Homo sapiens: one gene and its partners. The protein of the gene in region 2 purifies or fractionates together with the protein of the main gene of each other region. This does not show direct contact. Each region holds a gene or a part of one and is shown on either strand. Other genes may lie near its edges.

Region 1 (2,838 bases), 660 kb from region 2:
CATTTTCATGTGAGTTTAGATTCTGCTTATCGATTTCTTTTTTTTCTTTTTTTTTTTTTTTGAGATAGCATCTTGCTTTGTCACCCAGGCTGGAGTGCTATGGCTCAATCTCAGCTCACTGCAACCTCCGCCTCCTGGGTTCGAGAGATTCTCCTGCCTCAGCCTCCAGAGTAGTTAGGACTACAGGCGCGTGCCACCATGCCAGGCTAATTTTTGTATTTTTAATAGAGATGAGGTTTCATCATGCTGACCAGGCTGGTCTCGAACTCCTGACATCAAGTAACCCGGCTGCCTCAGCCTCCCAAAGTGCTGGGATTACAGTCGTGAGCCACCATACTCAGCCTAAGATTCAGCTTACCAATTTCTGCAAAAAAGCCCACTCATTTTTAATAGGAGGTAAAAAGCAGTTGACATTTATAACTTAGAGTCTTTTAATGTTAGTGCTGAAAGGGACTAGAGAGCTCATCTAATTCAACCCACTTATTTTAGTATTGAATGAATGACCCTGTACAAGGAAAGGGATTTGCTTGAGATCCACACAGCTGTTTAAAGGCAGAGTTGGGATTGGAACCAAGTCTTAGAGAATCCATTGTTGCTTCTACACTGCATTATTGCTTTGGTTCCCTAGTGTACATTCACTTTGCTTAGGAGTGATATGTTCAGTTTATCTTCTCTAAGAATGGCAGCTGTTATTTAGGACAGTGGCATGCTGAGAAATAGATTGATTTCTATTCTATACTGTGTCCAGTAAAGGTCGGGGGAGAAAGAGTAAATCTTATCTTCTTCTGTACTTTTCTTTGATTAATGTAAGAGTCTAGAGTTTTATCAGAAGATTATTGTCCTTTAAAATATTGATGGACTGATTATCACTTAAAGGGTATAAACAGTGGGTAGTAATTCAGTGATTGAGAGGTTAATTGCAGGTTTTTTTTTTTTTTTTTTCTGGTAACCATAGAATGAATGTAGAATGAATTTGGATTCAATAATGGGAACTAAGGTCAGGCGTGGTGGCTCACACCTGTAATCCCAGCACTTTGGGAGGCCGAGGCGGGTGGATCATCTGAGGTCAGGAGTTCCAGACCAGCCTGGCCAACATGGTGAAACCTCATCTCTACTAAAATTACGAAAAATTAGTCAGGTGTGGTGACGGGTGCCTATAATCCCAGCTACTTGGGAGGCTGAGGCAGTAGAATCGCTTGAACCCGGGATGCGGAAGTTGCAGTGAGCCAAGATCACGCCACTGTACTCCATCTTGGGCGACAGAGCGCAACTCTGTCTCCAAAAAAAAAAAAAAAAAAGGGCAGGGGGAGCGGCTAGAGAAGGAACATTCAAATCTTCCCACGTGGGCAAGTTCCAAGCAAATGTTTATTTTTTTACCTCCTCTTTGGTTTTTGTCTCACTTGAAGCACTTTGTGTTTATGGGAAAATACCAAAAATTACCAAAATTTAAAAACCCAGGGCTTTGCTGGAAGTGAGGGTATCTTCTTGGCTTTTCCCTTTTCCTCCCCACCACTATACGCACATGCACACACAGCTCTATTTTTTGGTGCTTTTCGTTCATTATTCACTCCATTTCATTTTAGCTCTTGAAGTCAAAATGGGATTCCAAAGAGCAAAATAGAAGTTTGGAGAGTTTGAAATCTCTCCTCGTGGCTGGACGCCGTGGCTCACACCTGTGATCCCAGCACTTTGGGAGGCCAAGGCAGGCATACTGCTTGAACTCAGGAGTTCAAGACCAGCCTGGGGAACATGGTAAAACCCTGTCTCTACAAAAAATAGAAAAATTAGCTGGGCATGGTGGCTGTAGTCCCAGCTATTTGGGAGGCTGAGGTGGGAGGATCACTTGAGCCTGGGGAGGTTGAGACTGCACTGAGTCTTGAATGAATGAATCCATCTCTCTTTCTCTCTCCATATAGTCAAAGAGAACCAAAAATGTATGTGCTTTTTTTGTGAAATTGTTAAGGATTCCATGATCCTACTAAAATTTTTGATAATGATAATTTCAAGTGGAGAATATATAAAGGACTCGTGAGGCCTTCCTACCTCATTTTCTGAGGTTATGTTGACTTTAATATCCAATGTATCATAGGTGTTTTCTTTTTTCTCTGACAATTGTTATGTTAAAAACAAAAAGAAGCACATACTGTACAGTCAAAACTATCAGACGTAACTCTGTGGGAAACTTTATTCCAAGGGTGCTGCCACTGCCCTTGTTTTAAATATTTTTGGAACTTCATTTCTCTTCAGGTCTATTTAATAAGCTTGTTAGGAATATTGTAAATTATTTTAGAAACACATTGTGGTCTCAGCCTCATGTGGCATTGCCACTTGTTACTACATGACCCCCCCACACCCCCTAAAAAAGAAAAAGGACTTTAAAAACCCTCTCAGGACAAACATTTGCTACCGTGGTTGATTTTTTAATTTTACATTAACTATTTAATATCAGACTATAACTAAAATACAAGTAGTGGAATTATACTTTTATAAAGTATCAAATTATGTAGATGATGACGAAGTTATAAGGTTACTATAATTTCCAACTTCACCCATAGGTCATGGTATAGTTGAAATTTCATATTTAAATATCAAAACATAAATGTCTAAAGAGATTGTGTAAATTCTTTATCAGTTATAAGGAAAAACCAAATTCAAATTCTTAAGGTTTTTCTTATATGTGATTTTTTTTTTTTTTTTTTTTTTGAGACAAACTTGCAGGGAGAGAATTATGTGGCATGAGGAGGATTGAGAATGTTGTTCATTTTATCTAATTACTGCCTATTAAGAAAAGCTTCACATTTATTTCAGCTATTCTATTGAATACTTTTACCTAAGATA
Region 2 (3,500 bases):
CTTCAAGTTAACAGACACAGCATACACTGAAAGAATTAAAAATAAAAACAAAATAATCTGAAATGGAAGATGGAACTTTGCAGGTATACGGCTATCATAAAAACTGAGAGAAATAAGGTAATCTATCTTCCTTAAAGAAAAGCATGGGCCAGGTGCGGTGTAATCCCAGCACTTTAGGCGGCCAAGTGGGAAAGATCACTTCACATCTGGAGATCGAGACCATTCTGGGCAATACAGTGAGAACCTTTGAAAAAATTCAAAAATTGGACCAGGCATGGTGGCTCATGCCTGAGCCCAGGAGTTCGAGACCAGCCTGGGCGACAAAGTAAGACCCACCCCCTTCCATCTCTTAAAAAAAAGAAAAAAAAAATTTTTTTTTAATTACCCAGGCACAGTGGTGTGCACCTGTAATCCCAGCTAGGTGGGAAGATCAACTGAGCCCAGAAGTTTGAGGTTACAGTGAGCTATGATCCTGCCACTGCACTACAGCATGGGCAACAGAGCTCTTAAAAATTAAAAAAAAAAAAAAAAGAAAAGAAAAGAAAAGAAAAAGAGCAGGGTGCGGTGGCTCACCTGAGGTCAGGAGTTCGAGATCGGCCTGGCCAACATGGTGAAACCTCGTCTCTACTAAAAACACAGAAATTCACCAGGCGTGGTGGCAGGCACCTGTAATGTCAGCTACTCGTAAGGCTGAGGCGGGAGAATCGCTTGAACCCGGGAAGCGGAGGTTGCAGTGAGCCGAGATTGTGCCATTGCACTCCGGCCTAAGTGACAAGAGCGAAACACTGACTCAAAAAAAAAAAAAGAAAACAAAAAACAAAAGGGACGTGTTCTTACAACCTATTTTGCCAGCAGAAACCTACTGGATAAAGATGCAATCCAAGAAATGGGCCCAGAAGCTTAGTGGGACATCCCTTTTCCTCTAAAGCAAGGTAGGTTGAGTGCCAAGTTACTCGGTTTTGGAAGGGAAGGCATACAGTACTTACCATGACAGATCTGCTCTGTAACATGAAGGCCACAAGTACTTCCATTTAGAAATTCTCTTCTGTGATTTTTAGACGAGCATATAAGCTCCCCTAACAAGAACTGAGCCTACAGTTGAGATAGCATTATTATAGCTTCCCCGTCCACAAATATAGACCCAATAATGAGAGAATTTTAAAACTACCCAGCCTTTCTATACCCATGCTAACACTATATACATTATAAAATTCCCAAACGCTTTGTCATTACTAAGTAGTGTGTACAGTTTAAAATGAATTGCCTGAATTTGAATCCCAACTCATACCATCTTAATAGATGAATGACTTTGGACATGTTGTCATCCTTTCTGAGAGAACTTATTAAAAAAAAGAAACGCGGCCGGGTGTGGTGGCTCACGCCTGTAATCCCAGCACTTTGGGAGGCTGAGGAGGGCGGATCACCTGATGTCAGCAGTTCAAGACCAGCCTGGCCAACATGGTGAAACCGTGTCCCTACTAAAAACACAAAAATTAGCCATGCATGATGGCAGACGCCTGTAATCCCAGGCTTGAGGCTTGAAGCATGAGAATCCCTTGAACCTGGAAGGTGGAGGTTGCAGTGAGCCAAGATGATGCTACTGCACTCCAGCCAGGATGACAGAGATTCTGCCTAAAAAAAAAAAAAAAACACACACCATTTATTTCACAGGTATGCAAAAGCCCCTATCACACTATCTCTAGCACTGACCACCAAATTAGCTGATAGCCTATTTCTAAGGTGGATGATTAACACATCACAAAAACTTAATTTTACAGACAATAAATACTTGAAAAGTGTTAAGAATCAAATATTTATTTTGTTCTAAAGAAATAATCTGAAAATCAAAAGTTTTTTTGGGGAAAAGCTACAAGTAATTTAGAAAAGAAAAACTTCAACACAATAATGACTAGGTCTAGCCCAAGTATGGAAAAGCGCAATAATTTTAAGTTTCTATTGGACAAATGACTCAATTTATGGAAAATCAGAAATACTTTCCATTTTGCTCATGACAACAAAAAGAAAATATCAATTATCCTATGATGGAGAATGGAGCAAGCACACAATAATGGCTGACCCCAACTGGCAGTCAACACAAAAACATCCATGTAAAGCTTGTAGATAAACTATAATTGAAATTTTTTTTTTTTTTGAGACGGAGTCTCGCTTTGTCACCCAGACTGGAGTGCAGTGGTGCTGATCTTGGCTCACTGCAAGCTCCGCCTCCTGTGTTCACACCATTCTCCTGCCTCAGCCTCCTGAGCAGCTGGGACTACAGGCGCCCGCCACCACACCTGGCTACATTTTTGTATGTTTTTAGTAGAGACAGGGTTTCACCATATTAGCCAGGATGGTCTCGATCTCCTGACCTTGTGATCTGCCCGCCTTGGCCTCCCTAAGTGATGGGATTACAGGCATGAGCCATTGTGCCCGGCCGAAAATATCTTTAGGCTAAAAGTAATTTTCATTTTCTTTGAAATAAACCTTCAGGCTAATAAAGCAGCAAATGCAAGTAGACAGTAACATGGGAGTTTAATATGGTTAATAGCACTAAATCAGACACTGTTGTAAGAATTACGTAAGTCAATATAAGTAAACTGCTAAAAGAGTTTGGCACATAGTAGGTAGTCAGTAAATTTTGACTTATTATCCCTATTTAGATGTGACAAGAAATGTTAATCATCGACTAAAGATTACTGACAGTATTTCACAAGTATCCTGGAATTTTTTCTAAGTCCATGGTGTGTGTGTATGTGTGTTTGTGTGTGACAGGGTCTCCCTCTGTCACCCAGTGCAGTGGCATGATCACAGCTCACTGCAGCCTCCACCTCCTAGGCTCAAGTGACCCTCCCACCTCAGCCTCCAGAGCAGATAGGACTACAGGCCCGTGCCACCGCACCAGCTAATGTTTGTATGTTTTGTAGAGATGGGGTTTCGCCATGTTGCCCAGGCTGGTCTTGAACTCCCGAGCCCACACAATCCGTCGGCCTGGGCATCCCAAAATGCTGGGATTATAGGCGTGAGCCACCGCACCCAGCCTAAGTCCATTCTTTGCATTCAGTTTTCCTTACAGCCTAAATTTACAAGGGCACATCAGTAATTTAGTTAAGCTCTCCCTGCTAGATAAAAATTAAAGTCATTTTGTTTTAGTCATTTAACCTCCAACCTGCAAAATGGAGGAAGAGAGATTTGTGGCTATTTCCAAAATGGTAAAAATATAAATGGAGGTTCGGCGCAGTGGCTCACGCCTGTAATCCTAGCACTTTGGGAGGCCGAGGCGGGTGGATCACCTGAGGTACAGAGTTCGAGACCAGACTGGCCAAAATGTTGAAACCCCGTCTCTACTAAAAATACAAAAAAATTAGCCAGGCATAGTGGCACATGCCCATAGTCCCAGCTACTAAGGAGGCTGAGGTAGGAGAATTGCTTGAACTCAGGAGATGGAGGTTGCAGTGAGCCACGATGGTGCCATTGCACTCCAGCCTGGGAGACAAGAGCAA
Region 3 (3,500 bases), on a different chromosome or scaffold from region 2:
GGCTTTACTGGCACAACCTGAAACAGAAACTAAGAACTCCCTTGGACACCCCTGATATAAGAAAAATCACTAGGACTATTCCCTAGAGCCCTATTCTTAGAAATTTACTCTAATCAGAGAGTAAAAGAATAAGCAATATGAAAATAATGAGGGGGTCAGGACACGCTACCCTCAAATCAAACACAGGAAGGTCACTCTGACCCTCCCCTTACCCCTTACCCCAATGCAGGTCATAAGACCATCACGTAAGGGGTGCCCTCCCTATACCTGATCTCTGAAGCTAAAGGATCACAGAGAAGAATCTGAACAAGCAGGCCTTGCTAAGTTCTCTCTAGCTTATTACCACTGGACCACACTCTTTGTCCTATCATATTTCTCTACAACTTTCCACTCTTCATCAAACCTAGCATAAAAATATCCAAGTTTACCTGTTTCTTGGGTTCTTCACTTCCTTATGAAGGCACCTATGTCACATAAAATTTATATTAAATAGGCCGGGTACAGTGGCTCACGCCTATAATCCCAACACTTTGGGAGGCCAAGGCAGGTGGATTACCTGAGGTCAGGAGTTCAAGACCAGCTTGGCCAACATGGTGAAACCCTGTCTCTACCAAAAATACAAAAATTAGGTGGGTGTGGTGGTGGGCGCCTGTAATCCCAGCTACCTGGGAGGCTGAGACAGGAGAGCTGCTTGAACCCAGGAGGCAGTGGTTGCAGTGAGCTGAGATCATGCCATTGCACTCCAGCCTGGGCGACAAGAGCAAAACTCCGTCTCAAAAAAATTTATATTAAATAAATGTGTATGCCTTTCTCCTGTTAAATCTGTCTCTTGTTATAGTGACCTCAGCCTTGACCCTAAGATGGGTAGAGAAAAATATATTTTTCCTCTTTTATAATAACAAATGGTACAAACTTCATATAATACAGAATTTTTCTTTTAAAATCTTTAACATATTTATTATCGCAATTACTCTCACAAGTAGATCAATTTAGAAATGGCAATACTTAATTCTTTTTTTAGGAAGAACTCAATATCTTACAAGGAATTATTTTTCAGGTAAGATGAACTAGTTTATTTTATCCATAGAAAAACATTTTATAATAAGAGAAACAAAGTTCATTTTCTTATAAAATTAAAAACATTGACATAGCATAGTGCTCAAGAGCCTCGCCTCTCGTAGTCAGAAAGTCCCAGGTGTGAATCCAAACTCTACCTACTAATCACTGGCTATGAGTCTTTACGTAAATCACTTAGCCTTCCTTAAGCCTCACTGCCCCTATAAATTAACATGGCAATATTAATAGTACCTACTCTCTTAGAGTTGCTCTGATGATCGAACAAAATTAGGTATGGAAGTGCCTAATCCCATGCCTACCCAGCACATAGCAAGTGTTCAATGAGTGCTAGTTACATTATGGCTGTTTGTAGCCAAATACATTCAAATACACAAACACATTCAAAATATAAAAGTTTTGTTAACACCATTATTCTTAACATTGCTGTCATAAAATTATAATAATTATCAAAGGGCTCTAGCGTCCATTTTAAGATTTTCCTGCATTCCATTAAAAAGTTTCGGTTTCTATTTTCTTTTCTACAGGGAAGCTATTATGACGACTTTATGAAATAAATGCCTTTTGATTAACTTTCTTTTACTTACCTCAGAAATATCACCAAAAAAGTCCCCATAAAACAGGTCAATGGGAGAGTCGGATGCTTTGGGGTTGATCAGGATGGCATCAAATTCCTTGCCCACTTCAAAGTTTCCAATCTCACCATCCAGCCCCAGGGCTATTGAGAACAAGTGAATAAACAGTCAGGATTGCAAGCCATCAGACCACACTAATGTCTCAGTTTGTAAGGACAGATTTTGCCAACATGTCGCTAGGAGAAAAAAAAAAATTAGTATCTTAACAGTGAGACAGAAAATCACTCTCATTCTAACAGGTCACAAGACTTCTACTTACATAAAGTGGAGTAAGCACAGGAAAGCAAAATCTGAGAATGAAAACAATTCCCTTCATTACTGTATCATAACTCTGGTATGTCTCTATTTCAGCTCTATCAGTGCACTTCATAGCCCAGCTGGTCTATGCTTTTCATTTATCCCTCTAAGCAACATGATGATTAACATAATACCTTTATTCTTTTTCCCTTCTATTCTCCCCCAACACTCCAACTCCTTGCCTTGCTTTTTTTTGTTCTTTCTGTTCCATGAAATAGCTGACAAGATTTATTTTCATGGCAGTGAAATGAACCTTGAATAAATAAAAAATAATTATCCTTTTGCATATTTGTCAATGCAGGCATATCCATCAGAAATTCCTTAGTTTAAATCCTTTGAATGGAAAAAAAACCTCACTTCTCAAAATGAACAGATTCTCATAACTCAAAAGTCTCAATGCTTTTGAAAACAGACCAATCTCTTTGCAACCTCAAAGGTTTTCTGGTCACCAGAGAAGAATGGTCTTCTAAAATAGAGCACAGGCCAATAATATCTATTGACTTGGCTCATCTCATAGCTACAATTCATGTTCCAAGATTATTGGATATCAAGGAAGAACATCTCTCATTATTATGATTTAGTTTCAGAAAGATGGGGGTAGTTGGCTTTCTTCGCCAACAGAGGTATTGGCTCTAAAGTTCCTTAAAGCCTGTAATCTGAGGAAGGTGTAAACTGGGGTCACAAATGGAAGCATGGAAGGTTAACTGGAGTGCAGTATTATTTATTTCAATTTTCTTTCTTTCTTTTTTTTTTTTTTGAGACGGAGTCTTGCTCTGTCGCCTAGGCTGGAGTGCAGTGGCGCAATTTCAGCTCACTGCAAGCTGTGCCTCCTGGGTTCACACCATTCTCCTGCCTCAGCCTCCCGAGTAGCTAGGACTACAGGCACCCACCACCACGCCCGGCTAATTTTTTGTGTATTTTTAGTAGAGATGGGGTTTCACCGTGTTAGCCAGGATGGTCTCGATCTCCTAACCTCGCGAACTGCCCACCTCGGACTCCCAAAGTGCTGGGATTACAGGCGTGAGCCACTGTGCTCAGCCTTATTTCAATTTTCACATGTATTTGTTGCATTCTATCACCGCTAAGATAAAGTTTCATGTGAAAATATTGAATCGACTACCTTTGTTAGGCAATATCTAATACATTATATTTCTACCTATAGGTATCCAGAAGTTGTGGCATTTCTCTAAACACTGACTCAGAAATCTTACTTGTTCTTAAAAGATTCTTTAAAGGGCAACTCTTTTATTCTCAGAAAAGAAAAATGGCTTTTTAGCTAAAGTACTCTCTTTAGCAAGACAGGGGTATGAAAATAATCCAAAATGTTAAAAGGAGCCAGGTGACTTCTACTAATTGTATGGGAAAGGACTGAATGTAACAGAAAATCACTGGAAATTCTCTCCTCCTTCACTGATTACTTGACTTCTTTTTGCCCTTGACAAAGAAACATGTCAAGTATGAGTTTTTAATGACTGAATTCAACTGAATTAAACT
Region 4 (3,500 bases), on a different chromosome or scaffold from region 2:
AACGGCACTGGGGAGCCATGGATGAACCTGCAGGAAGAGGGGGAGGGAGTGCCTAATGGTCTGAAGGACCAATCAGGGCAGGGGTGTGGCCGGGCTGGGGGCGGGGCCTGTGAGAGCGGGCCAATGGAGCCAGGGGGCAGGGCCGAAGGGCGGCTCCGTAGGGACCAAAGGAGGGTAGGCGGGAGGGCGCTGATGGCTTTTCCAGAGAGGAAGCAGGGGAAGGTGCCAGGAAGAGATAAGGTGAGAGGGCGGGCTGGGCCGGGGCTGGGTCCCTGACTCCGGGGTTTGTCTGGGTTTCCGGAGCCGCCCCCAGCCCGGCGGGGGCACCAGGTGTCTGGCCCGGACCCACCCCTCTGTCCCTGGGCCTTGTGCTCCAGCTCCCGCCAAGGGACCCGCGGGAACGAACCTGGGGGAGTCTAAGCAAGACCAGGAGGAAGACAGAGAGAGGGCGGCGGCGGAGCGGGGGAGAGATGGAGAGACAGGAGGAGGCAGAGCGAGAAAGAAAAGGAAAGGGAGTTAGAATAAAAGAAAAAGTAAAAATGGAGAAGAAAGAGACTGAGAGAGAGGTAGAAAGGAGACTGACATAGAGACAGAAAAAGAGAGAGAGAGACACTGCAGAGCCGCCTGGGCAGAGGAGCGCAAGGTGAATTCCGAAGGTTCCAGGAGTGGCAGCCTGGTCCACAGTGGGCCGCTCCCTCCGAAGGAGGATTCCTGGGGTGGGGGTGGGGGCTCTGACTCACCCACTCTCGCTGCTCCTTAAACCAACACCTCAGGCTCCTCCACCCCCTAGAACCTTCTTGGCCTCCCTGCCTGCCCAGCTTCCTGCCCCGCCTCCACCCTGGCAGCCTCCCCCTGAGAAAGTTCCATCTGACATCCAAAATCGCTCTGAAACCCGCGCTCTCCTTTCTCCTCTCCCTCCCCAAGGCCTGTCCTGATCCAGGAACCTCCAAGCCTTTTGCCTGGTCTCCAGGCTCCTAGACTCTCCTGCCTTGAATCCACCCTCCAAAAGGTAGCTTGAGTCTAATTATCTCCTTTCCCTGCTCCGAACTTTTTCATGGCTCCCCAGTGCCCTAGGGACAAAGCACAGATTCCCGGACACAGCCCACACCACCTCTGATCTCAGCCACATCCTCAGCCTCTAATTGAGTTAGCACACTGTCTACACTGGGTTCAACACTGACATTTCCCCTCAGATGCCCTCTCCTCCAAAGAAGCCCTCTCTGCCTGCCCCAGCTACCCCGCCCCAGCTCTGACCACACTGGGTCATCGGTGCCTGGGGATGGATCTGTCTCCTCTCCAGGAGCCCCAGTGAGGACTGAGCCCTGGAACTGCCTTCATTATTTAGGACTGGGAGCCCCAGCAGGACAGGACTGGAACCATCGTGGTCACTGTTGTGTCTCCTGCACCACCCAACACCAGGCCAGGCATAGAGGAGATTTTGTTCAATGCAACTGTTTGTTCAATGTCATTCATTCAATAAATATTTACAGAGCACCAATTCTGTTCCGGGCACTGGGGATAAATCAGTGAAGGAATTCAAAGAGCCCTGATTGGCTGGGTGTGGTGGCTTACGCCTGTAATCCCAGCACTTTGGGAGGCCAAGGCGGGCGGATCACCTGAGGTCGGGAGTTCGAGACCAGCCTGACCAATATGGTGAAACCCCGTCTCCACTAAAAATACAAAAAATTAGCTGGGTGTGGTGGCACACGCCTGTAACCCCAGCTACTCAGGAGGCTGAGGCAGGAGAATCGCTTGAACCCGGGAGGTGGAGGTTGCAGTGAGCTGATATCGCACCACTGCACTCCAGCCTGGGCAACAGAGGGAGACCCTGTCTCAAAAAAAAAAAAAAAGAAAGAAAGAAAAAGAAAGAGAAAGAGAAAGAAAGAGAGAAAGAGAAACAGAGAAAGAGAGAAAGGAGAGGAGAGGAGAAGAAAGGAAAGGAAAGGACAACAGGGTTAGGGTAAAGAAGGACGCATATGGGGGAAGTTATATTCATTCAAAGGAGGGCATGGACAGCCTTCCTGAGAAGGGAGCATTTGAGCAGAGTCTTGAAAGGGGTGAGGAGGGAGTGAGCCTTGTGGATGGCCAGGTGGGAGGGGGAAGAAGGCAGAAGAGGTTTCCAGGAAGAGGGAGCAGCAAGTGCACAGGACTGAGGCCACCAGCGTGAAGTGCAGGGGACGCTGGGAAGGGAATGGGAGATGAGGACAGAGGAAAGGAGTGAGAGAAGGGGACAATCTGTGGCCACAATCAAACAAGAGTCATGGGAGACGGGTGCTGTGAAGCGCCTAAGATGTAATAAATTCATCTTTTTTTTTTTTTTTATTTTGAGACAGAGTCTCGTTCTGTCGCCTAGGCTGGAGTGCAGTGGTACAATCTCAGCTCACTGCAACCTCTGCCTCCCGGGTTCAAGTGATTCTCATGCCTCAGCCTCCCAAGTAGCTGGGATTACAGGTGCCCGCCACCACACCTGGCTAATTTTTGTATTTTTAGTAGAGACGCAGTTTCACCATCTTGACCAGGCTGGTCTCGAACTCCTGACCTCAAGTGATCTGCTCCCCCCTCGGCCTCCCAAAGTGTTGGGATTACAGGCGTGAGCCACCGCACCCAGCCTTCATTGTTATTTTATGTCTGTTTACTTATTCTGTCTCCCTCCATCAAAAGATAAGCCCCGGGGCTGGTCCAATGGTAGTGGGTTATCAGAACTTTTTTTTTTTTTTTTAATAGAAATGGTGTCTCACTATGTTGCCCAAGCTGGTCTTCAATGCCTGGGCTCAAGCAATCCTCCAAAAGTGTTGGGATTACAGGCGTGAGCCACCGCACCTGGCCTTGGTTATCAGAACTTATTAGTGTCAGTAAAGTTGGCATGCAACTCCCCACCCCCACTGCTAAATTTGACTAGCTTATAAATAAATTAATTAATTAAATTTAAAAAAAGATGAGCCCCAGGAGGGCTGGAACCTTGTCTGTTCCCTCCATCCCCAGCCCCAGCACCATGTGTACAGAAAGCATTCCAGAAATACTTGTGGGCCTGGCGCGGTGGCTCACGCCTATAATCCCAGCACTTTGGGAGGCCAAGGAGAGCGGATCACCTGAGGTTGAGAGTTCAAGACCAGCCTGACCAACTAAAAATACTCTACTAAAAATACACAATTAGCCGGGCATGGTGGTGAATGCCTGTAATCCCAGCTACTCGGGAGGCTGAGGCAGGAGAATCGCTTGAATTCAGGAGGCGGAGGTTGTGGTGAGCCGAGATCACGCCATTGCACTCCAGCCTGGGCAATAAGAGCAAAACTCCGTCTCAAAAAAAGAAAAGAAGAAGAAAAAGAAATATTTGTGGAATAAACCAATGAACTTGGAAACCTTTGAACCACAATCTTATAAATTATCAAAAAATAAAGAGGGTAGAATAATGAGTATTTGTCTGTCTATATTTTATAGGAAGTTCAAAAATTCAACATACTCATGCCTGCAATCCCAGCACTTTGGGAGGCCAAAAGGGG

What was found. Proteins that work in one complex are often made in the same cells at the same time.
Region 1: the proteins of PPP4R3A (region 2) and CPSF2 fractionate together in Homo sapiens (co-fractionation; one large-scale study listed by BioGRID). This does not show direct contact.
Region 3: the proteins of PPP4R3A (region 2) and GDA purify together in Homo sapiens (affinity purification with mass spectrometry; one large-scale study listed by BioGRID and IntAct). This does not show direct contact.
Region 4: the proteins of PPP4R3A (region 2) and EHD2 purify together in Homo sapiens (affinity purification with mass spectrometry; one large-scale study listed by BioGRID and IntAct). This does not show direct contact.

Annotation. Positions count from the first base shown.
Region 1 is NC_000014.9:92,166,969-92,169,806, forward strand, and holds part of CPSF2 (cleavage and polyadenylation specificity factor subunit 2), read left to right. Parts: 3' UTR 1-2,838. UniProt on the Homo sapiens protein: Component of the cleavage and polyadenylation specificity factor (CPSF) complex that play a key role in pre-mRNA 3'-end formation, recognizing the AAUAAA signal sequence and interacting with poly(A) polymerase and other factors to bring about cleavage and poly(A) addition.
Region 2 is NC_000014.9:91,503,811-91,507,310, forward strand, and holds part of PPP4R3A (serine/threonine-protein phosphatase 4 regulatory subunit 3A), read right to left. Parts: intron 1-3,500. UniProt on the Homo sapiens protein: Regulatory subunit of serine/threonine-protein phosphatase 4. May regulate the activity of PPP4C at centrosomal microtubule organizing centers.
Region 3 is NC_000009.12:72,243,440-72,246,939, reverse strand, and holds part of GDA (guanine deaminase), read right to left. Parts: intron 1,793-3,500; coding exon 1,662-1,792; intron 1-1,661. UniProt on the Homo sapiens protein: Catalyzes the hydrolytic deamination of guanine, producing xanthine and ammonia.
Region 4 is NC_000019.10:47,726,922-47,730,421, reverse strand, and holds part of EHD2 (EH domain-containing protein 2), read right to left. Parts: intron 1,499-3,500; exon of another isoform or gene 1,301-1,498; intron 1,010-1,300; exon of another isoform or gene 911-1,009; intron 1-910. UniProt on the Homo sapiens protein: ATP- and membrane-binding protein that controls membrane reorganization/tubulation upon ATP hydrolysis. Plays a role in membrane trafficking between the plasma membrane and endosomes. Important for the internalization of GLUT4.